Regions from separate parts of the Homo sapiens genome. Here region 1 is linked to region 2. The links come from fine-mapping of genetic effects on gene expression. A gene starts in region 2. The other region holds a variant in brackets. All regions are shown on one strand. Distances are between the middles of the regions. Region 1 has its middle 9.0 kb from the start of GNPDA1. Region 2 holds the start of NDFIP1 (Nedd4 family interacting protein 1).

Region 1 (15,246 bases), 87 kb before region 2:
CAGGCGCTCACCCAGCCCTTGGGCCCAACTGCAGCTCCAGACCAGCTTGCTAGGGGTAGGCTTCATCTGGTGAGGCCCTGATGAGACCAGATGGTGGAGCTGATACCTTTACAGTGTGGGGGACTTGCTCTTTGCCTCAGTGTTATTTTGTTTTGTTTTGTTTTGTTTTCCAAATCCTGAGAGGCTGTGAATGGCTCGGTGTTGGTGTAGTTTTTGTTTATTTTTAAATTCAGTCAGAAATCTTTTTTTTTTTTTTTTTGAGATGGAGTCTCGCTCTGTTGCCCAGGCTGGAGTACAGTGGTGTGATCTCTGCTCACTGCAACCTCCGCCTCCCGGGTTCAAGCAGTTCTCCTGCCTCAGCCTCCCGGGTAGCTGGGATTACAGATGCCCACCACCATGCCCAGCTAATTTTTGTACTTTTAATAGAGATGGGGTTTCACCATGCTGGCCAGGCTAGTCGTGAACTCCTGACCTCAGGTGATCTGCCCGCCTTGGCCTCCTAAAGTGCTGGGATTACAGGCATGAGCCACCGCCCCCAGCCAGAAATGTTGTCTCAGCTTGAGGACTGCAGATGTTTCACAATGAAGCTCCAACTCCAATCTCCGATCACGTCTGATAACATGGGCCAGGTCTGCAGCATCTGCATCCAGACCTTTCCAGGAGGAGAGTGACTGACTTCTGGTGACTAAGCCCATTTCCCCTGAGTTACCCCTTCTGCAGGGAACCAGTGCAGGGTCTCTGCGAAGCCTGGAGGCTCTTGGATCAGCGTGGGGACTAATCGGAAAGACCTGCATTTCAATTCTGGTCTGGCTAATTTCTGGTTATTTAGTGAGTAATTCAAGCAAATGACTCAACTTCTCCAGGTCTCAGTTTTCTTACCTGAAACATAAGAATTGAGTGGAAATTAAGTAATACTGCCCTCGTGTGGCTGTTGTGACTATTAAATGAAATATTAGCATAGCATGGCATTCACAGCCAGCTGTTATTACTTACCCCTTATTTCCTCCTAACCCTCCTTACAGCCCACTCTCTAACCATACTGAAATGCTCTCTAGCCCTAACCTCCTGACTCCCTGTACTCCTCCTACTCCACATCTGTGTTTAAACTATTACCCACACCTATCCTCCCATCCTCTTGTCTTGGAACTAAAGTTGCCAAATTAAAAGAATTGTGAGTTTATCCATGCAATGGAACACTCTGCAACTCTTGTATGGTCAGATATTTTTATACCTTCTAATGCACCCTTGCTTTGGGCAAACAACCTGACCAGATGTTACCTCCCAAATTCTGCTCAATTCATAGAGTTTGTGTGGTGCTGGCCCTACCCTTTGACTTAGGAGCAAACCAATTAGAGACTCCATGGCTCTGGCCATGATTAGTTCAAGGCCAGGCAGGCATGGAAGACACTAACCCAGCAGCCATTCAGAGACTCCTTCTCCCTTGCTGCTTCCCACTGGAGAAACTGGAAAGTCAACGACTCTCACAGCTTCTCCCACAGCTACGGGGTGGCCAAGTAACTTCATTCTGCCCAATGAGGGAGGAGGATGGCTTCTGGTTAGATATTTTACTTCCTGAGAAAAGTGCTGTGCTTGAGAAACAAACTGGCGGTTTCTGGTTCCTTCCCTTTCCTTCCTGCCTTGAAGGCAGTTGTGATGACTGAAGCTGGGGAGGCCACGTTGTAACTGTGAGGCACCAAGCATAAGGATAGAGTGGAGGAGGGAAAACACTTATGTCCTTGATATCTGACTAGTGCTGGGACCTCCTACTTCTGGACTTCTTCTAAGTAAATGGTAAATGTCCTTATGGCTTAAACTTTAAATCATTGTTAGGAGAATTTCCTGTGACTTGAAATTGAAAACATGACTCACTGCTAGAGCAGGTGATTCAGATCTTCCTTAGGGTTTATGCCACTACTGGGGGAAAATACACTTCTCCTGAGATCTTGAGCCGTAAAACAGAGGAAAGCTTAGAGCTACAGAAAGGTACAACAAATAGAAGAGAGACACAGAACTCTGATGACATCATTTGAGCCCCCTAGAATAGCATGTCTGAAGCCAAATATACCCTTTTGGGTTTCGTGGTTGAGTGAGTGAATGAGTGAATACATAATTAAATATCATTTTCCCCTGAAGCTAGTTAGAGGAAATTCTGGAAGGATATTTTATTAGTTATCTATTGCTGTGTAACAGATTACCCCAAAACTTAGTGGCTTAAAACAACAATAATGACTTATTTCTCACAGTTTCTGTGGGCTAGAAATTCAGACAGGATACAGTGGCGATGATATCTTGCCCCTCAACTGAAAGACTCAAATTCTGGGGCTGGAATCGTATGAAAGCTCATTGACTCACATGTCTTGACAACAGGTGCTCACTGTCAGTGGAACACTCACACATGGCTCTCCTTGTTGCCTGGGCTTCCTCACAACATAGCGGTGGGTTCCAAGGGCAAGCGTATCAAGAGACAAAGATGGGCTAAGGCTGTATCCTTCTTCTGACCTAGTCTCAGAAGTCATATAGCATCACTTCTGCTGAGCTCTGTGGGTTGGAGAAATCACAAGCCCCTATCCAGATTTAAAAAGAGAAAACATAGACCCCCATCTCTCTGTGTAAGAAGTTCAGTAATATTATAAGAAGAGCATGTTGGACGGGATACATGTACAAGTATGGCCATGTTTAAAAAATACAATCTGCCACAGACACACACTAACTTGTTATTAAGATGTGATCTGGCCAGGAGTGGTGGGTCACACCTGTAATCCCAACACTTTGGGAGGCAGAGGCGGGCAGATCACTTGAACCCAGGAGTTTAAGACCAGCCTGGCCAACATGGTAAAACCCTGTCTCCACTAAAAATACAAAAATTACCCGGGTGTGGTGGCACGTGCCTGTAATCCTAGCTACTCAGGAGGCTGACGCGTGAGAATCGCTTGAACCTGGGAGGTGAAGGTTGCAGTAAGCTGAGATCGCACCACTGCACTGCAGCCTGGGTGACAGAGCAAGACTCTGTCTCAAACAAAACCCCCTGCCCCATTTGGCAAAAAAAAAAAAAAAAAAAAAAAAAATTTAATAAAAAGATTTGATCAAAGTAATTGACCATCTACTCTGTGCTGGTCACTGTGCTAAAAGTTTTTAAAGCATCGTCTCATTGACTCATCATATTTTTTCAAAGTGGGTGCTGCGGGTTGGATACATTCTGCCTAATATTTGTATGAAATGAATGATTTTGTCTTGAAGGAAAAACAACAACAAAACCTTGAAAACTTAATGAATCTTATGCTTCCATCCAAGCCAAGTAAATTGCCACCTGCCCTGCAGTCTTCTTTTTCATTCATTTATAAAATATTTATTGAGCCTTTACCATGTGCCCAGCACTATTTTAGGTTCTGGGGACACAACAATGAACAAAGCAAAGTCCATACCCTTGTGGACCTCCAGGCTCTAGGAATTACATTTTTATGAATTTTAGTAACTCGGTGTGACAGCCAGCCTCCAAGACGGCTCCTAGTGATTCACACGCTTATGTAGTCCCATTCCACAGTGGATGGGGTGACCTGTGTAACCCAACAGGATAGTGCAGAAATGATGGGTGTGTCTTCTAGGGTTAGGTCATAAAAGCCATTGCAGCTTCTTCTTTGTTTTCTCTCTGGGATCACCTTCTCAGTGATGTCAGCTGCTCCATTTCCACACTGGAGCAGCCTTATGGAAAAGCCCAGGTGGCGAGGAAACAAGACAACAGCCATGGGAGCCATCTTGGAAGCAGATCCTCCAGTCCCAGTCAAGACTGCAAATGACTGCAACCCTGGCCAGTAGCCTCACTGAAATCTCATGAGAGACCCTTAACCACAACCACAACCACAACCACTCAACTAAGTCATTCTTGATTTCTTGACCCACAGAAGCTGTGAGATAATAAACACTTGTGGTTTTAAGCTGCTAAATTGAGAATGATTTGTTATGCAGCAATATATCTAATACGCTCAGAAAAAAAATCCACAAATGGGGAGGGTGGCAAACAAGAGATTCAACCTTTGTAGCCAGTCCCTTGTGTCTGGAGGTGCAATGTCTGACCCATCAGAGACTCCCCACTCCCCACCCCTATACTCCAACATCCTGCCCCCTTCCACATGTTTGTGGAATCCCCTGCCAAGGCTTTTGCTGAGCCTTTCTTTCTGCTACTTGCTGTTTTCCACCTTTTCATTTTCTGAGGCCCTGTCTTACCTCCTATAATGATAGCCATATGTCACTACTCCCTGCATTTCCCATACTCCCTGTAGCTCAGTGGTACCTTGCACATAAAAGCCAAAGCCCCAAGTGGCTCAGAACACTGGCTCTGAAGCCCATTGGATTCAGATTCTGGATCAATCACTAATTAGCTGGGACACTTTTCTTAACCTTCCTGTAGTTCAGCTCCCTCAATTGTAAAATGGGGATAATCATAATGGCCACTCATAGGATAGTTGTGAGGATGAAATGAATTGACACGTGTAGAGCATTTGGAACTGCTCTACACAGTCTGTCACCCAGGCTGGAGTGCAGTGGCACTATCTCAGCTCACTACAACCTCCACCTCCCAGGTTCAAGCGATTCTCCTGCCTCAGCCTCCCAAGTAGCTGGGACTACAGGCACATGCCACCACACCCAGCTAATTTTTGTATTTTTAGTAGAGACGGGGTTTTGCCATGTTGGCCAGGCTGGTCTTGAACTCCTGACCTCAAGGGATCTGCCTGCCTCAGCCTCCCAAAGTGCTGGGATTACAGGCATGAGCCACTGCGCCCAGCCAACCACTAATTCTTTTTTTTTTGAGACGGAGTCTCGCTCTGTCGCCCAGGCTGGAGTGCAGTGGCGCAATCTTGGCTCACTGCAAGCTCTGCCTCCCGGGTTCACGCCATTCTCCTGCCTCAGCCTCCCGAGTAGCTGGGACTACAGGTGCCCGCCACCAGGCCTGGCTAATTTTTTGTATTTTTAGTAGAGATGGGGTTTCACCGTGTTAGCCAGGATGGTCTCGATCTCCTGACCTCGTGATCCGCCCGCCTCAGCCTCCCAAAGTGCTGGGATACTAATTCTTAATTCTAACTAAAAAATCTCTTTGCCCCAACAGCACACCCACATGACCAGCCAAAGTGGGGTTCTACCTTGCTTTCCTTTCAATTTAGCTCTGTTCTTCTCTTCCTTGTAGTAAACTTCTGTCAGTCCTTTTGGCTTCTCAGTTGTTTCTCCCTTCTTCTCTCTCATCTCAAAAGCCCAGATGTGAAACCACCAAAAACTGGCTTCTTAGAGGGCAGAAGAGAGGGGAGAAGCCTAGAAGGCAAAGGAATAATTTCTTTTTTCTTTTTCTTTCTTTCTTTCTTTTTTTTTTTTTTTTTTTTTGAGACAGAGTCTTGCTCTGTTGCCAGGCTGGAGTGCAGTGGCGTGATCTTGGCTCATTGCAGCCTCCGCCTCCCAGGTTCAAGCGATTCTCCTGCCTCAGCCTCCCAAGTAGCTGGGACTACAGGTGTGCGCCACCATGCCCAGCTAATTTTTGTATTTTTAGTAGAGATTGCGTTTCACCATGTTGGCCAATATGGTCTCGATCTCTTGACCTCATGATCTGCCTGCCTCGGCCTTCCAAAGTGCTGGGATTACAGGCATGAGCCACCATGCCTGGCCTTTCTTTTTCTTTTTAATTTGGTAAAACACACACACACACACACACACACACACACACACACACCATTAAGCTTACCATCTTAACCATTTCTAAGTCTATAGTTTGGTAGTATTAAATATATTCACATTGTTGTGTGACCAATCTCCAGAACTTTTTCATTTTGAAAAACTGAAACTTTGTAGCCATTAAACAATTTTTTGACTTAACATAATGTCCTCAAGATTCATCCATGTTGTAGCATGTGACAAGATTTCCTTCTTTTTCAAGGCTGAATAATATTCCATTGTATGCATATACCACATTTTCCCCTACTATCTGCCATCCATTTACTTAATTGATTTCAGTACACATGTATAGCAGTACCAGGATTGTAACCCTCACTCCCGTGTGAAACAACTTTATCAAATAGAGCACAGTGCTTATGTACAGCTTCTTTTGCCTTTCATCTGACAGGTTCCACTAATTTCCAAAGTTACTTGTCAGCATCTTTCCCCCTCTATAACTTTCAGTGAGGTTGTTTAATACATTTTAATGCAGTTATATTGTTTTGTCACATTCTACATTCTGTCCTGGGATCCTTCTCCTAAATGATTTTTTAAAAATTGGTATACTCTTTGTGCTATAAAATTCTATGGGTTTTGAGACATGCATAGTGTCAAAAATCCCCGAAAATATAGGGGATTTTTTTAGGACAGTGAAACTATTCTATATGACACTATGATTTAGGACCTATTTAACTCTCTGAACCCCTTGGCAATCATTAAACTTTTTATTCATTTATTTATTTATTTTTGAGACAGGGTCTTGCTCTCTTGCCCAGGCTGGACTGCAGTGGTGTGATCACAGCTCACTGCAGCCTCCACTGCCCAGGCTTAAACAATCCTCCCACCTCAGACTCCTGAGTAACTGGGACTACAGGCATAAGCCAACATACCTAGCTAATTTTTAAATTTTTTTGTAGAGATGGGGTCTCACTATGTTGCTCAGGTTAGTCTCAAACTCCTGGGCTCAAGCAATCCTGCTGCCCTGGGCTCTCAAAATGCTGGGCTTACAGTCACACACCACCATGCCCAGCTTTTTTTTTTTTTTTTT[T/C]CTGTGGAGATGGAGTTCTGCCATGTTGCCCAGGCTGGTCTTGAACTCCTGAGTTCAACTGATCCACCGGCCTCAGCCTCCCAAAGTGCTGGGATTATAGGCATGAGCCACCGCAACTGGCCTCACTGAGCTTTTTATCATCACGGTAGTTATGCCTCTTCCTACCACATTTTGATTATCCATTCATCTGTTGATGGATGTTTGAGTTGATTCCACCTCTTGTCTATGGCAGATTCCTTTTAAAGGGAGAAATGAGAACAAATTTAGTAATTTTAGACTCCATCACAAGAAAAAAACTATATAATAAATTGTGTGGCTCCAACATTAAATGAGAAAGCGGGTCATAGCTTGAAGAGTCTCACAGGGCAGAGCAGGGTACATGCAAGTCAGGGTTCAGAAATGGACTCCATGGCCACACTATCTGGCTTCGAATCCCAGCTCTACCACTTTTGGGCTGTGTAACTTCTGTGTAAGTTATGACATGTCTTTGTTCCCTAATGGCTTCACCCATAAAATAGGAAAAATAAGATCTACCTTACAGTATGTACTATTATTATCAAGAGCAGTTGCCTCACGAAGGGTAAATGATGTAATGCGTCTAAGGCAAATAATAGCTGCCACATTGTATGTAGTATTATTCTCAAGAATAATAATCTTGCCTGTAATCCCAGCACTTTGGGAGGCCGAGGCAGGCAGATCATGAGGGCAGGAGATTGAGACCATCCTAGCTAACATGGTGAAACCCCGTCTCTACTAAAAATACAAAAAATTAGCCAGGCGTGGTGATGGGCGCCTGTGGTCCCAGCTACTCGGGAGGCTGAGGCAGAATGGTGTGAACCCAGGAAATACAGCTTGCAGTGAGCCGAGATTGCGCCACTGCACTCCAGACTGGGCGACAGAGCGAGACTCCATCTCAAAAAAAAAAAAAAAAAAAAAAAAAAAAAGAAGAATCTCAGGGAGGAGCAAATGATTTGACAAATATAAAGCCCTTAGAACAGTGCCCGGCACAGAGTTAGCCCTCACTAAGGGACCATTACCATTATTACTAGGGTTTTGAGATGGGCTCAAAAGAGCCAGGATTTGATCATTTAAGAGGAGGAGGAAGGCATTATAGGCAGGCACAAACAAAGGCACAGTGGCACGGAGGCTGAGGGAGTAGATTTAACAAATAAAAGTACAGAACATCAGTGAAATCTGAATTATTTATAATTGCCTGTGCATATGTACACTGAGATAGAAAAATATTGCATGCACTGACTTATACTTTTAGTAAATTACTTTTAGTAACATATTCATTGCTTATCTGAAATAAATTGTAAATATCTAAATTACATACCTCTTTAATTATATTTCCCTGGAGATTTTGTGCTCCCTAATAGTTCTTCATTTTGCAGAATTTATGTATAAAATTCCTTACTATTAGTCTGTGTTCCATTTACATTTTATCATGACTTCTGCAGTGGTTGCATCCAATTTATTTTGTTCTTTTGGCCACTGAACATTCATTAATGAGAAATCATGCTTGACATTAGCTTTACAAGCCAGTGTATTGAACATACATAGGCATAAAGTTACCAACTCTGAGAATTACTCTTCAAATTTGATTGGCTGAAGCACATGTGTCATCTTTCATGCATAACTTGCTTTTCCGTTCTTCAGGATCACATTGCATCTTTTGATCAATGACTCTTTAAAATGTTGTCCACTGACAAGAAGGAGCACTGTCATCAGTTTTTATTCCTTCTTTTCATTACACTACATGTAGATTACAATAGAACTTTTGATGGATGTATGCAAACAGGTACAATGTTTATCCAAAGTTGAAGCAAAGCCTGAATGATCCTATGAAAGATATTGGCTGTCCTGCCCATGTTCTCATAATGCTGCTTAAATAGCACTGGATGTTTTCTATTGAGACTGAAGTAATTATCATGAAATTTTTCACGTAATGTAATCATTTAGGTTTTGCTTCAACTTTGAATAATCATTGTACCTGTATGCATAACATATAATGTAGTGTAATGAAAAGAAGGAATAAAAACTCATGTAATAAATTAAAAAACACATGTAATATAATGTAGTATAGATTTTATTCTTTCTTTTTCATCACACCACACATGGTGATTCCACTTGTACCCACACTGGAAAAGTATTTAGTAACATCCATGTAAAAAACTGAATTTTTCAAGGGATGAAATCCATCTTGAAAGATGGTCATAACAAGTGTTGTAATAATTGTCCACTCTGAGCTAAAATGTATTTTCCTGTTCATATGTAATGTCCCTTTTAACAATAGTTTTGATAATTCAAGGGATGCATTTTTCATCAATTCTCCTTCAACACATTCAACAAATACATTTAGCAATGGAGTAGTACTTCCATAACACTATTTGCTCTTTCAATTTGCAGAATCCTATAGCAGAATTGACACTGAAAACTATGAATGAGAAATAACTAGGCACCATTCAATGGATTATTTTAAAAGTCAAGAATTTTGGGGGCCTTTTCTTCATAATTAAAGTATAATTTCAGTGCTTGAAATAAATGGAAGATTCTCTCAACTATGTTTGTTAAAGAGATCCAATGGATTTTTGAATGCAAGAGAAATGAATAATTCCGAATGCCAAAATCATAAAAATCCTTAAAATGTTCAGTTAGAACCCTATAAATACTAAAGTAAGAGAACAATTTCATGATAATTACTTCAGTTTCAATAGAAGAGATCCATCCAATGCTATTTACGCAGCATTATGAGAACACGAGCAGGACTGCCAATACCTTCCATAGGATCATTGAGGCTTTGCTTCAACTCAAATAAATAGTGTACTTGTAAGCATACATCCAACAAAAGTTCTATTTGTATTATTTCCAACGAAAGCAGTAAAAACGTTTTCATTAACTGCCAACTCAAGAGGCTCTGCAAATATTTGCTATTGTTTCTGAAGTCTCACCTGGAAGGGATTCTACCTGCAATTGCCTTGTTGCAAGTGTTTTTATGAGAAAACTAGTGCGCGCAGGAAAAGTTGTACCTGTATTGTGATACTTGTATTGTGGCTATGCCACAAAAAGATGAGGCATTTAGATATTTGATAATCTCTGTAATAATAAATGAAGCTATTATATTTTTTATTAGGGCAGTCGATTTTATCCTAGCATTTGAAATTTTGCTTGCAATTTTGGAACCAGAAAATACTTTGTCAGTAGTATGTTCAAATAGTTATTTGAGCAGAAAGACTGATAATGATATAGTGTGGAAGGCCATTACAACTTCTATTACAACTATTTTTGTCTTAATCTGAGTTTCTCTTAATCAAAAAACTTTGTTGGTGTATCACTTTTCTTAGTACTGGTTGAGAAAATCTTACATCTCTTTTATGTTTAGCCATTCATATATGCTAGTTTCCATCTAACTTTCTATCATTTTTATACTAAATGAACAATTACTGCACAAAGAGCTTCAAAAGGACTTTTCCTTGTTTAATAAATGTCCACTGGTCAGAAATTTCATCACAAAATTTACACTTGCTTTTTGACAATCAGTGGTTCAAATATACGCAAATAAAAAACAGATCATATAAACTACTGCAAAAATGGAAGACTGACTTTGCTAAGCTCAGCCGCTTCAGTACATCTGTCACTCGTAAGTCCAAACTCATAACAAACCATAAACAAGGTCCAACTGTTAAAAGAGTTGCGTTACATTGAACCTGACATCTGATGCCAAAAGAAAAAAAAAGTGAACTTCCGGTTTGCTTGCAAGAGAGAACCGTACCTCTATGGGAAAGTCTCCCAACCCCCAGGGCTGATTTAGTGTAAGGTTTAGGGAAGCGGGTCATGCAGGGTCTGGTGGCGCTTCTGAAGCCTAAGTATTTAGGAATCTAAGGCCTTTCAGCTGTGTTAGCAAATCACAGGCGGAGGCTGCCTTTCGCCTCCGACTTCCGGGAGCGCCGGCGCTAGAGCGAGACACTTGCTCATTGGCTGCTGTCGAGCAGCGGAGGGGACCGAGGGGCCGGCCCTGATGCGCTGCCTTTCGGGCTGTAGTGGATCCGCTTACTTTTAGGAGTGCAGTTACTGCAGCGATGCTGTCGCCGACTGGCTGATTTTCAGAACGTGTGTATGATTAGAAGTTATCTCTAATTAACGGTGGCTCCTGTTCATGACTTTGGGCTTCTGCAAAGAACAGTGTTTTCCTTTCCCGAATAAAAAAATAAGTACCCTTAATTCTCAGTCTTCCCTTCTGTTCTTCCCTCAGCCGAACCTGCATGAAACCAAGAAGGTATTGTCCAAATCTTTATGGAGATACGCTTTTCAGCTAGTGTTGCCATTTAGGTGATTTAATTTAGGTGCCAGTTACTGTCGAGGAAAAGTAGCTCTGATGATTTTTGAATGTATTGAAAAAAGCTGAACACAGGACATTCAAGGAGTCTTGACAAAGTCAAGTAGACAAAATACAGGATGTGCCCCACATACACAGCCAACTCTATGGGGAAAGTGAGACGGGAAGGGAGGGAAAGCCCCATATCCGACAGAAAGAAATCTAAGTCCTTTGTCTTTCTGGAAGGGCATCCATGGCATCCCGGCTTGTTAAAGAAAAATATTAGAACAACCTAAATATCCGTCAATCAGGGACTGATTGAATAGTTTTGCACACTTGTAAAATGGAATACAATGCAGCTACTAAAAAGGAGCCAGTTCCATGAGCTGATAGGAAGACTACCACAATAGTTAAATAAATTTTTAAAAGCAAGATACAGAACTCCGTATAACATGTGTGCTAAAACATGCATGAGGGTAAGGAGGTAAGAATAAATATATGTTCCTGCGCGCATAGACAATTTCTAGAAGGATGCTAAAGAAACAGGTCGCAGAGATCTCTTTGGGGGAAGGGAACTAAAAGGCAGCAAGCGGAGGGAGTCTTCCTTTTTATGGCATATCCTTTGATACTGTTTTCATTTCTTTATTCTCTGTGATGCATTATGTCTATATATACACATATATAATAACAATATATATCATATCATATATATGATATATTGTATATAATATATATCATATATAATATATGATATATGATATATAATATATAATATATACATATTATATATAGTCTATATGTATATATATACATATATGTATATACATATACATGTATATGTATATACACATATACATATATATGTATATATACACATATACATATATATGTATATATACATATACACATATATATACATATATGTGTGTATATATATACATATATATGTGTGTGTATATATATATACATATATATATATATATACAGAGTCTCTCTCTATCGCCCAGGCTGGAGTGCAGTGGCGCGATCTCGGCTCACTGCAAGTTCCGCCTCCCGGGTTCACGCCATTCTCCTGCTTCAGCCTCCCGAGTAGCTGGAACTACAGGCGCCCGCCACCGCGCCCGGCTAATTTTTTTTTGTATTTTTAGTAGAGACGGGGTTTCACGGTGTTAGCCAGGATGGTCTCGATCTCCTGACCTTGTGATCCGCCCGTCTCGGCCTCCCAAAGTGCTGGGATTACAGGCGTGAGCCAACGCGCCAGGCGCATTATGTATATTAAACAATTTTAATTATATATTTTATATATATATATAGAGAGAGAGAGAGAGAGACATTTATTGCAAGGAATTGGCTGATACTGTTGTGGGAGTTGGCGAGGGAGTTCTGAAATCCATATGTCAGGCTGTGAGGAAGGCATGCAGGAACTCTTGGGCATGAACTGAAACTGTTGTCCAATTTCTTCTTCTGGAAACCCTCAACTCCTCTCTTCTAAGGCCTTTCAACTGATTGAATCGGGCCCACCCAGATTATTTTGGACAATCTCTTATTTCTCCTTCCTTCCTTCCTTCTTTCTTCTTTTTCCTTTCTTCTTTCTTCTCTTTTTTTGAGACAGAGTCTCACTCTGTCGCCCAGGCTGGGGTGCAGTGTTGTGATCTTGGCTCGCTGCAACCTCCGCCTCCTGGGTTCAAGCAGTCCTCCCACCTCAGCCTCCCAAGTAGCTGGGACCACAGGCATGTGCCACCACGCCCGGCTAATTTTTTGTATTTTTTCTAGAGACAGAGTTTCACCATGTTACCCAGGCTGGTGTCGAACTCCTGGACTCCAGCGATCCACCTGCCTTGGCCTCCCAAAGTGCTGGGATTACAGGTGTGAGCCACTACGCTTGGCCTCTATTTCCTGAAGTTAACTGACTATGGACTTTAATCATATCTACAAAATAACCTTCACAGCAACAACTAAATTGCTATTTGATTGACTGAGGACTGTATCCTAGACAAGTTAACATATAAAACTGACCCTCAACCTATATTAGTCATTCTTCACTGCATGACAAATTACTCTAAAATGTAGTGCCTTAAAACAACAACATTATCTTAAAGTTGCTGGAGGTCAGGAATCTAGGTGCAGCTTAGCTGGGTCTTTTTTTGTTTCCTTAAATTTTTTTTTTTTTTTTTTTTTTTTGTGGAGACAGGATCTTGCTTCGTTGCCCAGGCTGATCTCCTGGTTTCAAGCAATCTTCCTGCCTCAGTCTCTCAGTCTTCTGGCCTCAGCCTCCCGAAGTACTGGGATTACAGGATTGAGCTGCCACACCTGGCCCCTATCTAGGTCTTTTTTTTTTTTTTTTTTTTTTTTGAGATGGAGTTTTGCTCTTGTTGCCCAGGCTAGAGTGCAGTGGCACTCTCTCGGCTCACTGCAACCTCCACCTCCTGGGTTCAAGCGATTCTCCTGCCTCAGCCTCCCAAGTAGCTGGGATTACAGGCACGCACCACCACACCTGGCTAATTTTGTCTCCTGGTTTCTACTTTATTTGTTATCCCTAGTGTAAGAAAAAAGCAACCTTGATGTTATTGCACACTTTATAGGCTAGGACACACACAGCCTTCTTGACTGTTCTGGAGGGCTGCTTTTAACTGTCTTGCCAGAGCATATTTACTATTTCCCCATAGTATATAATCCTTGGGTGTGGGGAGTAACACATCTACCTGTCTTGTGGCCATGCAAGACCACACTTCTAAGTTACCTTAACAAATAATCCTCTACCAACAAGCTGGATTTGTCAGCCTCCTTTGATTTCTTGGCTCTGGCATTTGGGGGTCGCTCTGCATATCCAGCCCCTTTGCGGAACACTGGCTCACTCACATGCTTATTGGTAGGATTCAGTTGCTCATGAGCTGTCAGCTGGAGGCTTCCCTTGGTCCTTGCCACGTAGGCCTCTCCGCAGAACATCTCACAACATGGCAGCTTATTTTGTCAGAGTGAGCAAGAGACTTTTAATTATTTTGAAAACAATGAATTTTTAAAAATCGAATGTATGGGCTGGGCATGAACAGGAGGCATGGATAGATTTGCAGGTGTGGACAGGATGTTTCTGAGCCTGGTGACCCTTCTGCAGGTGGGTGGACCTCCGCGCCTGGCTGATCAGCTGTGTGGGACACTTCCCACGTCTCCAAGTCTCTTCCATATCACGGAGCACAAGAAACAGCCTGGGTGGAAATGGGGGAAGTCCTAATCCCAGAGGGGAACAGCTTCATCCCACATAGCGAATGACTGAGAAGAAGAGCTCATGATAAATGTGCTTAACTGCACAAGCAGCCAAAGGGCACAGGAACCATCTGATTATTCTGTATAGAATTCATTTCCTAGGCCGGGCACTGTGGCTCACGCCTGTAATCCCAGCACTTTGGGAAGCCGAGGTGGGAGGACTATGAGGTCAGGAGATCGAGACCATCCTGGCCAACATGGTGAAACCCCGTTTCAACTAAAAATACAAAAATTAGCCAGGCGTGGTGGTGTGCACCTGTAGTCCCAGCTACTTGGGAGGCTGAGGCAGGAGAATCGCTTGAACCTGGGAGGCGGAGGTTGCAGTGAGCCGAGATCGCACCACTGCACTCCAGCCTGGGTGACAGAGCAAGACTCCGTCTCAATAAAAAAAAAAAAGAGAAATTCATTTCCTGAGAGCTCCCTACTGCTGATGGACAGAAACACCAAGGAGGGAGTCTCTGGAGCTTCCTTGGAATTTCATCACAAAAAGTCTCCTCTTTGGGGAGTCAGCTTGCTTTGAAGGTAATAACTCCTTTCCTGCCAAAAACAGTTATCTGCAGCACGAAATGTATTACAGAGAGGTAGTATGGTAAACATTGGTGAAAATGGAGGGGTTGGGAGCAGCAGAACTCACTGTAGTGTATAATCACCCTTGTGCCAGCTGCTGATACTTACTGAACACTTACTGTGTCTTAGGGATGGTTCCAAGTGCTTTTCACACATTATCATTTCACTTAGTCCTTAGAACAACCCCCTGAGGTAGGCATTGTTTTTCCAATTTTACTGATGAGAAAACTTGCATAGACAGGTTTATAAGTCACCCAAAGTCACCAAGCTGATAAGTGGCTGACCTGGGGTTTGAACTCCGGTGTCTGTACTCCTAGCCATTCGACCGTACTGCCTCCAGGAGAAGGCTTCTCTCCAGCAC
Region 2 (15,575 bases):
CTCCAGGGTAGATTTGATAATCTAGGCCATAAAACAAACGTCAATAAATTTAAAAGGATTGAAATGATGCAAAGTATGTTCTCCAAATACAATGGGATAAAATTAGAAATAAATAACAGAAATTTGGGGGATTTGCAGATATATGGAAATCAAACCACAGTCTTAAATAACCAATGGGTGAAAGAAGAAATCACAAGAGAAATTAGAAAATACTTTGAGGCCGGGCATGGTGGCTCATGCCTGTAATCCCAGCACTTTGGGAGGGGGAGGTGGGTGGATAACTTGAGGTCAGGAGTTCAAGACCAATTAGCTGGGCGTGGTGGTGCACACCTGTAATCCCAGATACTCAGGAGGCTGAGGGGGGAGAATCACTTGAACCCGGGAGGCAGAGGTTACTGTGAGCCATTACTGCACCACTGCACTCCAGCCTGGGTGACAGAGCGAGACTCCCTCTCAAAAAAAAAAAAGAAAGAAAAAAGAAAAAAAAGAAAATATTTTGAGATGAAATTAGTTAAAGACACAACATACATGGCTGGGCACAGTGGCTCATGCCTGTAATCCCAGTACTTTGGGAGGCCAAGGCGTTTGAGGCCAGGAGTTTGATACCAGCCTGACCAACATGATGAAACCCTGTCTCTACTAAAAATACAAAAACTAGCCAGGCGTGACGGCACATGCCTGTAATCCCAGCTATTCGGGAGGCTGAGACAGGAAAATCACTTGAACCCAGGAGGCGGAGGTTGCAGTGAGCCAAGATGGTGCCACTGCACTCCAGCAGCCTGGGTGACAGAGTGAGACTCTGCCTCACACAAAAAAAGAAAGACACAACATACTGAAGCTTACGCATATGTAGCTAGAATACATAAATAACCACTTTCAGCATTTCTTAATTTCATTTTGTAGAATAAATGAGAGACCATTTTTTAAATAGTTTCAGGTTCTAGGCATAAAGTCACAGTGTTTATCTATAGTGGTGCTAAATTAATATTTGCTGAATAAATGAATCTGTGGAATTCCAGTGTCAGGAAGGTAAACCAAGGAATCAGGAGTCCCATGTTGGATTCTTATTTGACGAACCCCTTTCCTCTGACTCACCTTTTCTTTTCTTTTTTTTTTGAGACGGAGTCTTGCTCTATCCCCCAGGCTAGAGTGCAGTGGCGTGATCTGGGCTCGCTGCAAACTCTGCCTCCCAGGTTCAAGCAATTCTCCTGCCTCAGCCTCCCAAGTAGCTGGGATTGCAGGCTTGGGCCACCACACCCAGTTAATTTTTGTATTTTTAGTAGAGACAGGGTTTCGTCATGTTGGCCAGGCTGGTCTGGAACTCCTGGCCTCAGGTGATCCATCCGCCTTGGCCTCCCAAAGTGTTGGGATTACAGGTGTGAGCCAAAGCATCTGGCCTCTGACTCACTGTTTCATAAAAGCCACTTACCTGTTTATATTTTAGGATCTTTCATAAATTCTTATCTTCCTCTCTCTTTCCTTTCCTTTTCCAGTAGGTGTTCTGCATTAGTCTCTGGCTTAAACTCTCTATTTAATCTCATAGCAAATAACTTCTTTTGTCTTGCTACTAAACTAGGGGTTGGCAAACTACTGCTCAGGAGCCAAGTCCAGCCTACTGCCTGTCTTTGTTTGACCTGAGAGTTGAGAAGAGTTTTTACTTTTGTTTTTTTTTTTAATTCTATTGTGTAGAGCTGGTGTGCAGTGACGTGATCACAGCTCACTGCAGCCTCAAACTCCTATGTTCAAGTGATCCTACTGCCTCAACCTCCTGAGTAGCTGGGACCACAAGCGTTTGCTACCATGTTTGGCTAATGGCTTATTTATTTATTTATTTATTTTTGGAAAGATAGAGTTTTGCTATATTTCCCAGGCTGGTCTCAATCTCCTGGCCTCAAGTGATCCTCTGGCCTCGGCTTCACAAAGTACTGGGATTACGGGCATAAGCCACTGTGCCTGGCCAGTTTTTACTTTTTTTTTTTTTTTTTTTTATTTAAACAGAGTCTCACTCTGTCGGGCAGGCTGAAGTGCAGTGGCATGATCTCAGCTCACTACAACCTCTGCCTCCCGGGTTCAAGCGATTCTCCTGCCTCAGCCTCTGAGTAGCTGGGACTATAGGCTTGTGCCACCACACCCAGCTAATTTTTGTATTTTTAGTAAAGACGGGGTTTCACCATGTTGGCCAGGATGGTCTCGATCTCTTGACCTTGTGATCTGCCCACCTCCGCCTCCCAAAGTGCTGGGATTACAGGCGTGAGCCACCGTGCCCAGCCCAGTTTTTACATTTTTAACTAATTGGAAAAAAAAATCAAAAGAAGAATACTATTTCATGACACATAAAAATCATATGTTGAGGCTGGGCACGGTGGCTCACGCCTGTAATCCCAGCTCCTTGGGAGGCTGAGGCGGGTGGATTGCTTTAGGTCAGGAGTTTGAGACCAGCCTGGCCAACATAGCGAAACCCTGTCTCTACTAAAAATACAAAAATTAGCTGGGCGTGGTGGCAGGTGCCTGTAATCCCAGCTACTCGGGAGGCTAAGGCAGGAGAATCTCTTGAACCCAGGAGGCGAAGTTTGTGGTAAGCCAAGAACATGCCACTGCACTCCATCCAGCCTGGGCGATAGAGTGAGACTCCATCTCAAAAATAAAAAAAATAAAAAAATAAATCATACGTAATTCACATTTCAATGATCATAAATAAGACTTTATTGGAACACAGTCTTGCCACTTTGGCATTGTTTATGGCTGTGTTCACAATACAATGGCAAAGTGGAGTAGCTGCAACAGAGCTTATGGTTCACAAAGCCTAAAATATTTCTATCTATTCCTTAACATTAAAAGTTTGCTAAGTTCTAAGATTTTGTTCTAAACTAAGTTCTAAGCTTTTGTACAATTATACTCATGAGTTTGTGAAAGTTGTAAGAATCAAAATGGAGTCACTTATTCTATACCCCGACAAATAGGAGTCGGGAGGCCATAAAGGAGGGGCTCTCATGCACACATGTCTACGTTAAAATCTATTTTTAGGTTACACTTTCTGAAAACCACAACCTTGAACAAGGCCACCACAACTTTACACAAAGACGTCTGCCTAGGAACTGTCTGTTCAGCCTTGGAGTGATACCACCCTTGTTATTGATCCTTGTAGCCAAGGTTAATAGTTTCAAAACAACTTATGTAACCTTGCTCATTTTGCCTTTAAAACCTTTGCCTTCCTTTCCCTCTCTGGGTACATCCATGGCCCTTCATGAGGTGCATACATATCCCAGATTGCAATCTTGAGGATTCACAAATAAACTCACTGTCTTTGGAGAATCTCTCTGTTGTTATTTCAGGTTGACAACTTTCTCTCTTCCCATGACAGCAAAGCCCTTTTATTTCTTTCTGTTTTTTTTTTTTAGATGAAGTTTCACTCTTGTTGCCCAGGCTGGAGTGCAATGGCGCGATCTCGGCTCACTGCAACCTCCGCCTCTCAGGTTCAAGTGATTCTCCTGCCTTAGCCTCCCAAGTAGCTGGGATTACAGGCATGTACCACCACGCCCGGCTAAGTTTTTTGTATTTTTAGTAGAGATGGGGTTTCTCCATGATGGTCAGGCTGGTCTCCAACTCCCAACCTCAGGTGATCCTCCCGCCTCGGCCTCCCAAAGTGCTGGGATTACAGGCGTGAGCCACCACACCTGGCCAACAAAGCCCTTTTCTCGTTCAAAACCCTTTCTTCCCAATCCTTACCTGATTATCCCAGCTGGCCACATAATTCTCTTCACTATCTCTCAGCATTAGTTAATATAGCTCAACACAGTTGTAAATAACTTGTAAGTTTTATATTTTAAAAATGTCTCAAATAAGTGTTTACTATCATCTCTATTTCATCATGAAGACTCCAAAGGTTAGAACTTTCTATCTCCTGTCTATTTATGTCCCGTATTTCTCTCCACACCCAAAGCAGTGCATACATTTTGGAGCCAGACAAATCCCAGTTTGCGTTTCGACTCCACCGCTCACAAAGCTGAGTAGGTTATGTAAATTTCCTGAGTCTCTTCAAGAATCTGCAGAATGGGTTTGTTATGAAGATTAAGCAGATGATGTACCATCAGGTCCAAGATTCTGGAAGTGCTCCATAACAGTAGTAATTATCAGTGGATAATTTCTTTATTTGTAATATGAAGATATTACCTTTTGCTCTTAATGAACCTTGTGGTAATGTAGTGAGAATTAAAAGAAGTAGTAAGTCATAGAAATAAAACTTCATGGTTTAATTGGAGCCCTGTGAAGACTAGCTGGAGAAGTTCAAGGCCTCAAATGAGATATTAGACTAATGAGGCTTTTGTCTAAATTTAACACATTTAACAAACCCTTCTTGGTTACTTACTGAGCTCTGCACTACCTAGGTCAAGCCTCATGTGGATATGAAAGACAGAAGGTCACATTTATCCTAGAGATTTGTATCTATATTGCAGGGGGAAAGGGATACGGACATGAGTTATGCTTATACTTGTCCATGTTTCTTTTCTCTCTCAGGAGGGATGATTCAGAGTCAGCAATTCACATATGCAGTACTGCACATGGAAAGTATTACTGTTATTCTGTGGGGAAATAAGTTTCTAAGTGCAGCAATCTGAAATTAATAACTTTCTCTGTGGAAACTCTCTTGACAACATCTCGAGATGAAGCCAAAGAGCACAATTTTTATGGCTTTGGATTATCTTCTCTGTCTGCTTGGCTTGCACCAGGCATGGATCTGTGAGCCAGAAATTCAGTTTTCCCCTTCGTTGTACAATTTGCCTGCCAGCTGGAGGCCTAATATAGCAGTGACTCAATTTCTCAATTCTCCAATTTATCCACCCATCAAATCAAGGCAAATAATCTCAATTTACTTATTAGAGGCTTTGGGGAACTCAAGAAAAAAAAGACCAAAATCTTTACCGTGACTACAAAACATTTTGGTTGAGGACATAGGAAAAGGAGATTAGAAGTTGGAGATCAATTTTCTTTTACTTTCAATGCAAAATATTTCTATGATAAAGCCTGTTATTTATATTATGATAAATATTTGTGTCCACATGCAGGGAGTATATAGATATTGAGGGAGAAAGTAATTTAGGAAAGAAATAGAAGGGTAGCAACATCTTTTCCACAAAAGCCACAGCACTGCAGACATGCATAAAGATTGCAGTTGTTGCTCCAATAGCCTTATGTGGTAGGCCGACAAATTCTTTTTTCTTTTTCTTTTTTTTTTTCAGAGATTGTGTCTCACTATGTTGCCCAGGTTGGTCTCGAACTCCTGGCTCCTGGGCTCACGTGATCCTCGAGTCTCAGGCTCTCAAAGTGCTGAGATTACAGATGTGAGCCACTGTGCCCAGTGGACATTCTTTTTTATTCTTTCTTACACGTAAATGTAGACAATCTGGACAAAGAAGTCTGGATTTCTACTTTCCACTGCTGACATTTTAAAAAATTTCAAATTAGATTTTTGCACCCTTTATACAAGACTACATGGCAGGACATTATGTTTGATTCACTGTACCTGATTACATTTAAATGTTGTTTTTCTGGATTATAAACAACAACTGAGGGACAGAGTAAGGAGGCTCTAAATAGACTTGAGAGCTTGGAATGTTGCTACATTTGTTCGCTCTCCCAGCATGTTAATATGTGAGACTAATACTTGGAAATAGCGACAGATATAGAGGAGTTTGGATGCTGAGAGAGAACTCAAAGTGAAGATGGTAAACATCTAGAGTTTTTATTGATTACAATTTTCTCATATATACAGAAACCTCAGGGTGTGTTCTAAACACAGTTCTCTTTTAAAATACATAATTAACTAAACTTCAAAATTAGAAGCTAAGACAATAATCATATTAATATAACCTCTACACTGCCAACTTGGAAAGGCAATGAAGAAGAAATGGGAATTGCAACAAGCTTCAGAGATGGAAGATTTTGTTTTTCTCTGTAGGACATGTGGGTAGAAGCAATTGCAGATGGCTGGGTGTGAAAGAAACAGACCTTGCAAGCCTGCTATATAGCTATACTGTGCTACATGGCATTGGGAGGTAATAAGATTTAAAAGACAAATACTCTTGTCTTCACAAAGCTTATAATTTAGTTGTGCAATACTGGGTAAGAAAGCTGGCTTAATGGAGTTGTATTCCAGCTTCACCCCTTAGTAGCTCTGTGTCATTGGGTGAGATATTTAATTTCTTTGGGCATAACTTCCTCATCTGTGAAACACTGATAATTGTATCTCCTATATGGCAGCTATGCCAGCCTCCTTTCTGTTCTTCCACAAGACAATCTCTCTCTGGACCGCCCTTTGCACCTGTTCCTGTGGTCGGGAAAGCCTTTAGCATGGCCAAACCCTTCAAGTTTTGACTTCATGTCACCGAGTCAGGGAGCTTTTTTGGAAAATATTGTTTCCGATTCCGCAGATGAGGCTGTTAAAATACTAAAGGATGGCATAAACATGAGGATGCTATTATAATCATCCACCCTAAGTAGGATTTGAGATCCAAGCAGTTCTCAAGGATTTAGGGTTAGCAAACTTTTTCTGTAAAATGTCAGATAGCAAGTATTATAGGGTTTGCAGGCCATACCAAACAAATGGGTGCTGCTGTGTTCCAATAAAACTTTATTTATGGACACTGAAACTTGAATTTCATGTACTTTTCACAGTCATGGTGGCAGACCGGATTTGGCCCCCTCCCTGTCGCTGGCTGACCCCTGGTTTATGAGTACGGCAGATAAAAGAAGGGAGTGAATAAGAACCACGATTCTGCTGCCAGACACGAGGGATCAGGTCGCTGCTGTGAAGATTGTCAACCTCTCTGGTTGCCAACGACCTCGAGAATGGGGTTGTGGTCCCTGCGTCAGGGCGGTTGTGCTGAAGGCTGGATGAGGGCACGTAGGTGAAGCTCAGTGCTTGGCACGAGGTGCTCATCAGCAGCATCGCCCTTGCTTTGGGCTGGCCTGTTAGTAATTCGTTTTTAGTGGAATCGAATACAACACTTGAGCCTCGGAGGCTCAGGTCGTCGGAGCAACTACACCAGGGCCGGTGCACCTCGGGGCGGCGGCGCAGGACTAGGCTAGGCCGGGCCGGGCCGGGCAGGGCGGCGCGAGTCGGGGGTGGGGCGGCGGCGCAGCGCCGTCGTCGTAGTCCCCGCCTCTTCCCCAGGGGCCGCGTCGGAGCCTCGGCGGCGGCGGCGGTGCTTACAGCCTGAGAAGAGCGTCTCGCCCGGGAGCGGCGGCGGCCATCGAGACCCACCCAAGGCGCGTCCCCCTCGGCCTCCCAGCGCTCCCAAGCCGCAGCGGCCGCGCCCCTTCAGCTAGCTCGCTCGCTCGCTCTGCTTCCCTGCTGCCGGCTGCGCCATGGCGTTGGCGTTGGCGGCGCTGGCGGCGGTCGAGCCGGCCTGCGGCAGCCGGTACCAGCAGGTAAGCGGCGCCCGACTCCAGCCCCGAACTCCGGTCCCTGGCTCTGCCCTGCCCGCTGGCCGCCTCAGGCCTCTCTGGCCGGCCCGCGGCCAACTCGACGCCGGGGCTTGGCAGGCCGCGCTGGGCCTGGAGGGGCGGGTCGGGCCCCGGGCTCGGATTCGAGGCTGCCACGGGCCCGGCCTGCCCGTCTGCGACCCCAGGTGGGACTCCGGCGGTGGAAAGTCCTCCTCCCGGCCTCGTTTCCCGCATTTCCCAGGGCGGGCGGGTCCCTGAGTCAGAACCCGCGACCCACAGGCGGCATCGATCTGAGGCATTCGTTTTTCATTTTTCCACCTTTGGTTTGATGTCATTGGAAAAGAAAGAAAGAAAAAAGCATGAAACGGAAACTGGGTGGAGAGAAAAGATTAAAATCTCTGCTGCTGCCGATAGCTCCCCACAGCAAGATGCTATTGCTCAGGGTTTCAGAGCCTAGTTTGTCGAAACCCATCCCCCTCGCCTCCGTTTTAAGACAAAAGTAAAAAATGAAGCAAGAGACAAGCCCGCAGTTTGCAGTAGATTTGGAAGAGGCGATGTTTGGCTGTGGTGATGCCCCAAAAGGGAGAGCTACGATGAAGTCTGCAGGGCGTGTGCCGGGTGTATTTTAAATGCTTGGAAGTGACGTTTTAAGAGATTTGATGGCATAGCTGGGGAGGAAATGTATAGGAAATGATTGGATCATTTTCTCGGGTTTGATTTAATACATTGAGGCCCCAGGGAAAAGAGCTGCTTGTTTCACTCCGCGTCTGTAGCTAAGTTCCCCCAGGAAATTTAGAGACCTTCTGCAGGGTTTTTGGAAGTGTTAATCTAACATACAGTAATGGTGGGAATTGAGCCAGGTGGTAAACTGATGTTGATTGGAACCGCAAATAACGGCTTGTGTTTGTCATGTTTCAGATGCTTTCGGTGCATACAGATGTCAATCCTCCTTTTATCAAATAAAATGTCCTATCTTAGACGATCTACAATTTTATATTTTAGAAGTAAGGAAAGCCAGCCAGTACGATGAAAACGTAGATTAACCCTGGTGCGGCCGGCCGGTTACTGGTTTGTTTTGCTATCATCAGCCATGTGTTGCAATCCGTCCCCACTCAGGCTTGGACTCCCAAAATGACTAGTTAAGAATTTCACTTCTTGGTTTTATAAACACGGCCCAAATTGTGGCAATGCAGTTAATCCTTAGATCTCTTCAGAGCACATGGATCTAGCACATGCTTTTTTTCTATGACCTTGGGCAGCCTGCGGGTTCCTTACTGCTTTAATAAAATGGGAATAACAGATGCCACTTAACTGTCACCACAGTGTTTGCAAATCACCCCTACTGTATACTGTCATCTGATTTCATCCTTTTCATCCTGACTTGGATAAGGCTAACGAGCAAAAGAGCTGTGGTTTTTCTTTGTACTGCCATCTTCTTGAGCTATTAGGTAATGCTGACATACTGCTAGAATATAAAAAATTTGCTGGAGTATCAAAATCATGTATTCCTTAGTGTGGCATTTAATATTTTTTAATTATGCAGAATTGAAGTATAAAAAAAAGAGAAAAAAATCTTCCTAGAAAAATTGTAAAAGATGAAAGCCCAAAAAACTGCAAAACCCTCCCTAAACAAAAACCAAATAGATAACCAAAGGTAATATTTTAATGTGCATTCTTGTGGGTTTATAGCTATGTAAATATACATAGTTATAGATCAGTATATGTGTGTACAGATAAGGAATGCAGGAAAGCTAATATTGATTTTTTTATGCAACAATCACAGTATTAAGTAATTTACATCCATTTTTTTTTTCTTTTAATTCATACCAAACCCTTATGAACCAGGGTTTGTTCTCATTGTCAAAGACTCAAAGTGGCTCAGTAACTTGCCTCAAGGTCACAGGCTGCTAAGTAGTGATTATAAGGATATACACACACTCACCTACTTAAAACACAGGCTCACAGTCCAGATATAGGTGTATGCATTAGCAGATATATACACATGCATATGTATTCTCTTATGTACCCATATATACGTATACAGACATATCTTTGTACATTTGTGTGCAGTTTTATGAGCCCCGATCATACTTGCACATACTTTTGCACGTGTCCATGTGTATCTTGTTCTCAGACATGTGCATTCATACATTTGCACATGTGTATCATGCACATGTATCTACAAAGGCATGCTAGATAAATAATGAAATAGGTTCATAATTCTATTTTGTAATGTTCTTCACACAATGTTATTAATGTCTTCTATATAAAATATTTTTAATGTCTGCATGGCATGTAATTGTATGGCTGAATCATAATTTAACTAATTGCTTATCTTTGGTCACTAAGAATGTTTACAGTTTTTTTCATTGAAATTTATTTCACATACGTCTTCAACCGTTTCCTTAGCATAAATTACTAGCCATGGAAATGCCTGGTCAGCGAATATGCATTTTTAAAAGGCTTTTGAATTATAGAATGATGGTGAATTGTCCAGGCAACTTGATAGGAGCATGATACTCTTTGGTTGTCACACAGGGCTGTTCTGACTTCTATTTGATCTGGTTAATCAAATTGAGCTAGTTTTCTCACCAAGTAAATGTAATGGAAAACTGTATGATTCATTCATAAATGCAAACACAGTTTTGTCTTTATGGTCTTTTTATTGGTAGTGTAATATGTGGACAACTTGAATTTAGCATAGTGACAGACTATGCAGAAAGGGTAGGCTCAACCAGGTGTGGTGGCTCACACCTGTAATCACAGCACTTTGGGAGGCCGAGGTGGGCGGATCACTTGAGGTCAGGAGTTCGAGACCAGCCTGGCCAACATGGCAAAACCTTGCCTCTACTAAAAATACAAAAATTAGCCAGGTGTGGTGGCACTCACCTGTAATCCCAGCTACTTGGGAGGCTGAGGCAGGAGAATTGCTTGAACCTGGGAGGCAGAAGTTGCAGTGAGCCAAGATTGTGCCACTGAACCCCAGCCTGGGTGACAGAGTGGGACTGTCTCAAAAAAAACCAAAACAAAACAAAACAAAAAATGGCCAGGCAAGGTGGCTCATGCCTGTAATCCCAGCACTTTGGGAGGCCAAGGCAGGCAGATCACAAAGATCACGAGGTCAAGAGATTGAGACCATCCTGGCCAACATGTGAAACCCCATCTCTATTAAAAATACAAAAATTAGCTGGGCGTGGTGGCGTGCACCTGTAGTCCCAGCTACTCAGGAGGCTGAGGCAGGAGAATCGCTTGAACCTGGGAGGCAGATGTTTCAGTGAACTGAGATCGTGCCACTGCACTCCTGCCTGGCGACAGAGCAAGACTCTGTTTAAAAAAAAAAGCACGGTGTGGTGGTGCACATCTGTAACTCCAGCTACTTGGGAGGCTGAGGCAGGAAAATCACTTGAACCCAGGAGGCAGAGTTTGCAGTAGGCTGGGATCGCGCCACTGTACTCCAGGTTGGGTGAGCAAGACTGTCTTAAAAAAAAAAAAAAAAAAAGGCACCGAGGTGGGCGGATCACAAGGTCAGGAGATCGAGACCATCCTGGCTAACATGGTGAAACCCCATCTCTACTAAAAATACAAAAAATTAGTTGGGCGTGGTGGCACGTGCCTGTAGTAGTCCCAGCTACTCGGGAGGCTGAGGCAGGAGAAACCCGGGAGGTGAAGATTGCAGTGAGCCGAGATCGCGCCACTGCACTCCAGGCTGGGCGACGAAGTGAGACTCTGTCCAAAAAAAAAAAAAAGAGGCTAGGCTTATAGGTTCCCCTGGCATTATTTTATTTTTTTTTTCATTTTTGCCTTTTGAAACTGAGACTGTCTCAGACAGTATGGAAGCACTATTTTAGAAAGACCTAAGTAGGCCCATACTGAGTGCTGAGAAACCTGTTGCGTGTTTCTCTCTCTGAGGACGTTAACTCCCGTTCATCCATAGATGAACGCAGATCTTCTGCGGTAGATGTGTGCATGAATTTTGCCAATTCATTTCAAGTATTTTGGGATACTTGGATTTGAATTCAATGTAAGTGGGTGATGATGACACTGCCATGTAGGTTCAAACAGATTACAGAATGTTTAGTTCTGGACTTGCCTCATTACCTGCTAAAGAAGTTGCCCACTTGTGAGCATCACCAATACTCTGTATGATAGTTTGATGACATTATAGTGCAGATTTTGGAATGGTATACTTTTGGATAAATTCTCTCAGGATTATGGAGGAATATTTTGATGAGCATAAGAATTTCATCTCTGATAGGTCAAACCATATTCATGTTAAATTATTAGATGAAGTAATGATCCTGGAGGAAGGAATGAATAGTGCTTATGTGGCTTTTTTGCTTATTTTTCAGTTTCAAAAGAAGTTATATCACAGAATGCCAACATAACCTAAATGTCAAAGTTTCTTAAGTTATATGCTGTATTTGTGGCCTACATGGTCAGTGATCAAAGAAAATTTATAAAAATATTAGGAAGATGGGTAAATTATTCCTTTGAAAACTTTAATTGTGGTAAAATACACATAAAATTTACCATGTTAACCACTTTTAAGTATACAGTTTAGTGGCATTAAGTACATTCACATTGTTGTGGAACCAGTCCATCTCCAGAACTTTGTCACCTTGCAGAACTGAAACTCCATATCCATTAAACAATAACTCTCCATTCCCCCTCCTCCAGCCCCTGGAAGCCACCATTCTACTTTCTATGTATTTGACTACCGTAGGTACCTCTCATAAGTGGAATTAGACAGGATTTGTCCTTTTGTGACTGGCATATGTCACTTAGCATAATGTCTTCAGAGTTCATCCATGTTGTAGCATGTGTCAGAATTTCCTGCCTCTTTAAGGCTGAATAATAGTCCATTTTATATATGTACCACATTTTGTTTATGCATTCATTTGTTGACGGATGCTTGGTTTGCTTCTACCTTTTGGTCATTGTGAGTAATGCTGCTATAAAAAACATGAGTCTACAAATATCTTTCAAGTCCCTGCTTTCAGTTCTTTTGGATATACCCAGAAATGGAATTGCTGGGTCATACGGCAATTCTATTTTTAAGTTTTCGAGAAACTCCCATACTGTTTTCCATGGCAGCTTCACCATTTTATTTTCCCACCAACAATGCATAAGGATTCCAATTTCTCCATATCCTCAACATACTTGTTATGTTCTCTTTTTTGTTTTTGTTTTTTTGATAGTAGCCATCTAATGGGTGTGAAGTGGTATCTCATTGCAGTATTGATCCCTATTTCCCTAATAATTAGCGATGTTGAGCATCTTTTCATGTGCTTATTGGCCATTGATATTTTCTTTAGAGAAAATGTGTATTCATGTTCTTTGTTCATTTTTGAATTGAGTTTTTTGTTGTCGAGTTGTAGGAGTAATTTCTTCATGATGTTTACATTTTCAACTTTTTACTATGGAAATTTCAAACACATACAATAATAAAGTAGTGTAAGAAATTTTATGTACCATCACCCAGCTTCAGCAATTGTGAATGAATGGCCAATATTATTTCACTTATACTCACCACATTATTTTGAAACGAATCCTAGAAATCATATATTGATAAATATTTCTATGTGTAACGCTAAAAGAAAACAAATGGTATGATATTTCAAGAAGATATCACATGAGGAATATATCATGAGAGCTCTCTTGTAATCTGTGAGGAGTATGGAAACAGGATTTGTCAGTGTCGGGCTGTGGATCCATAACTAACTGTCCTTTGTATTGATTGGGCTCACTCTTGCCAAGCCTCATGCTTTGTTTTTGTAGCAGTGATAGATTCCTGTTAATCTATCCTTGTTTTCTTACCTGATCCCATGGGTGACCACTTGTTAGGCAAGATTTATTTGGCTTAATCATACTATCTGTGTCCTGAAAATAGGGCAGTGCTTCCTGGTTTGGGCAGAAACCAAGGCCCAGTTGAACTGCTCTAGGGAATTTTGCTCTAAGCTGATGCCACCAGTAGTTTAACTGCACATAACTTCAAATTGTTTTATCCTAGACATTAATTATATTTCATAATTTTATGGTAGATTATAAAGTAAATCCTACCATGAGAATAACTTCATATTTTTATTAAGAAAGAAAAAAAGTCTCCAAGAGATTCAAGTGACATCCTCAGATTTATTTGTTTTTAGGGCTTTAAAATAATTATTTTGGTTTCTTAAAATGTTCTTGTTTTACCTTTAAGCAAGTACAACAGCTTAGAAGAATTATATTCTTTTTTGTTTGTTTGTTTTGAGATGGAGTGTCTTTCTTCTTGCTCAGGCTGGAAGGCAATGGCGCGATCTCGGCTCACTGCAACCTCCGCCTCCCAGGTTCAAGCGATTCTCCTGCCTCAGCCTCCTGAGTAGCTGGGATTACAGGTGCCCACCACCACGCCCAGCTAATTTTTTGTATTTTTCGTAGAGATGGGGTTTCACCATGTTGGCCAGGCTGGTCTTGAACTCCTGACCTCAAGTGATCTGCCCGCCTCGGTCTCCCAAAGTGCTGGGATTACAGGTGTGAGCCACTGCGCCCGGCCTATATTCTTATAATAATGGACAATTTAGATAAAGCAACTTTAATACTTCTGTTCCATTCATACTGAAAATTGGCATGATGGTTTATCTTTTTTTCAAGTCATTGTTGCCAATAAGCTAGGCAACTGGCAAACATCATGTATGAAATTTTTTGGGCTTGACATACTTTCCAGTGGTAATTGCTTCTAGTGGTTGGCTAGGTGGGGGTATGAGTTAGAGTAGGCTCTGGGTATCCACAGGTTCTACATTCGCAGATTCAACCAACTGCAGATTGAAAATAGGGGAAAATAACCATACAATAATAAATAATAGTGCAAGTAAAATATACACTATAACAGCTATTTTACATAGCATTTACATTGTATTAAGTGTTATAAGTAAAGATGATTTAAAGTACATGAGGTAGGTTATGTGTAAATACTATACCATTTTATGTCAGAGGCTTGTGCATCCTCCCATTTTGGTATCTGTGGGGAGTCCTGGAACCAATTCCCAGTGGATACTGAGGGATGACTGTATGATATGTCTTGTTAACTTGACCAAGAGTGGTAGTAAAGCAAGTGTAACTTGATATCACTTAGCACATCCTGCTGTTACAATAAGGCTTACTCATGATTTTTCTGAATAACATAATTTATATTAAATGTCCTAAATACTAGCACTGATCAAGTTTAAGAGCATTCCTAGTGAAATATTTTCTTATTAATGCAGTTCCCTTCATATGTATATTTATTTATTTATTTCCTTCCTTCCTTCCTTCCTTCCTTCTTTCTCTCTCTCTCTCTCTCTCTTTCTTTCTTTCTTTCAACAGAGTCTTGCTCTGTTCCCCAGGCTGGAGTGCAGTGGCGCAATCTTGGCACACTGCAACCCCTGCCTTCCAGTTTGAAGCCATTCTCCTGCCTCAGCCTCTGGAGTAGCTGGGACTACAGGTGCCCGCCAGCAGGCCCGGCTAATTTTTGTATTTTTAGTAGAGGTGGGGTTTCACCATGTTGGCCAGGCTAGTCTCGAACTCCTGACTTCAAATGATCTACCCACCTTGGCTTACAGAGATTACAGGTGTGAGCCACCATGCCCAGGCTACCTTCATATGTATTTTTCTTTTCTCTTCTCTCCTCTTCTTTTTTATTTATTTATTTATTTATTTTTGAGACAGGGTCTGGTTCTGTCACCTAGGCTGTAGTGCAGTGGTGAGAGCTCTGCTCACTGCAATCTCCGCCTCCTGGGTTCAAGAGATTCTCGTGCCTCAGCTTCCCAAGTAGCTGGTGTTACAGGTGCATGCCACCACGCCTGGCTAATTTTTGTATTTTTAGTAGAGATGGGGTTTCACCACGTTGCCCAGGCTGGTCTCGAACTCCTGGCCTTAAGTGATCTGCCCATCTCTGCCTCCCAAAGTGCTGGGATTACAGGCATGAGCCACCGTGCCCGGCCCATATGTATAATATATTTCTTATCCCCCTCCCCGAGCAATTTAGCATAATCTTTGACCATTTTTCTGTTTTTGTCTTTTAAATTAGTTTATCTCAGCAATATTAATTAGTACTTACCATAATCAAAGGCTTGAATACAATTTGGAGGTCTATCTGGAGACTGGACAATTTATGA

The links. PIP is the estimated chance that this variant, and not a neighbour inherited with it, causes the effect. A credible set is the group of variants that fine-mapping cannot tell apart.
Region 1: its variant is the best candidate, but not a certain one, in a credible set for the expression of NDFIP1 in whole blood (INTERVAL, PIP 0.63).

The regions. Positions count from the first base shown.
Region 1 is chr5:142,014,407-142,029,652 of GRCh38, forward strand. No RefSeq gene overlaps it. Among named protein-coding and RNA genes, the nearest start is that of GNPDA1, 9.0 kb to the left of the region's middle. RefSeq lists a cis regulatory region at 1-160, an enhancer at 3,713-3,772 and a silencer at 3,923-3,982. The variant T/C (reference allele first, on the strand shown) is at 6,743.
Region 2 is chr5:142,101,610-142,117,184 of GRCh38, forward strand. NDFIP1 (Nedd4 family interacting protein 1) reads left to right here and starts at 7,170. Exons shown (of 8, transcript NM_030571.4): 1 at 7,170-7,428. The coding sequence starts at 7,366. It overlaps LOC105378204 (a long non-coding RNA gene), which reads right to left and starts at 1,578. Exons shown (of 3, transcript XR_944368.3): 1 at 1,430-1,578. RefSeq lists an enhancer at 6,921-7,422 and silencers at 7,000-7,269, 7,330-7,459, 7,530-7,599.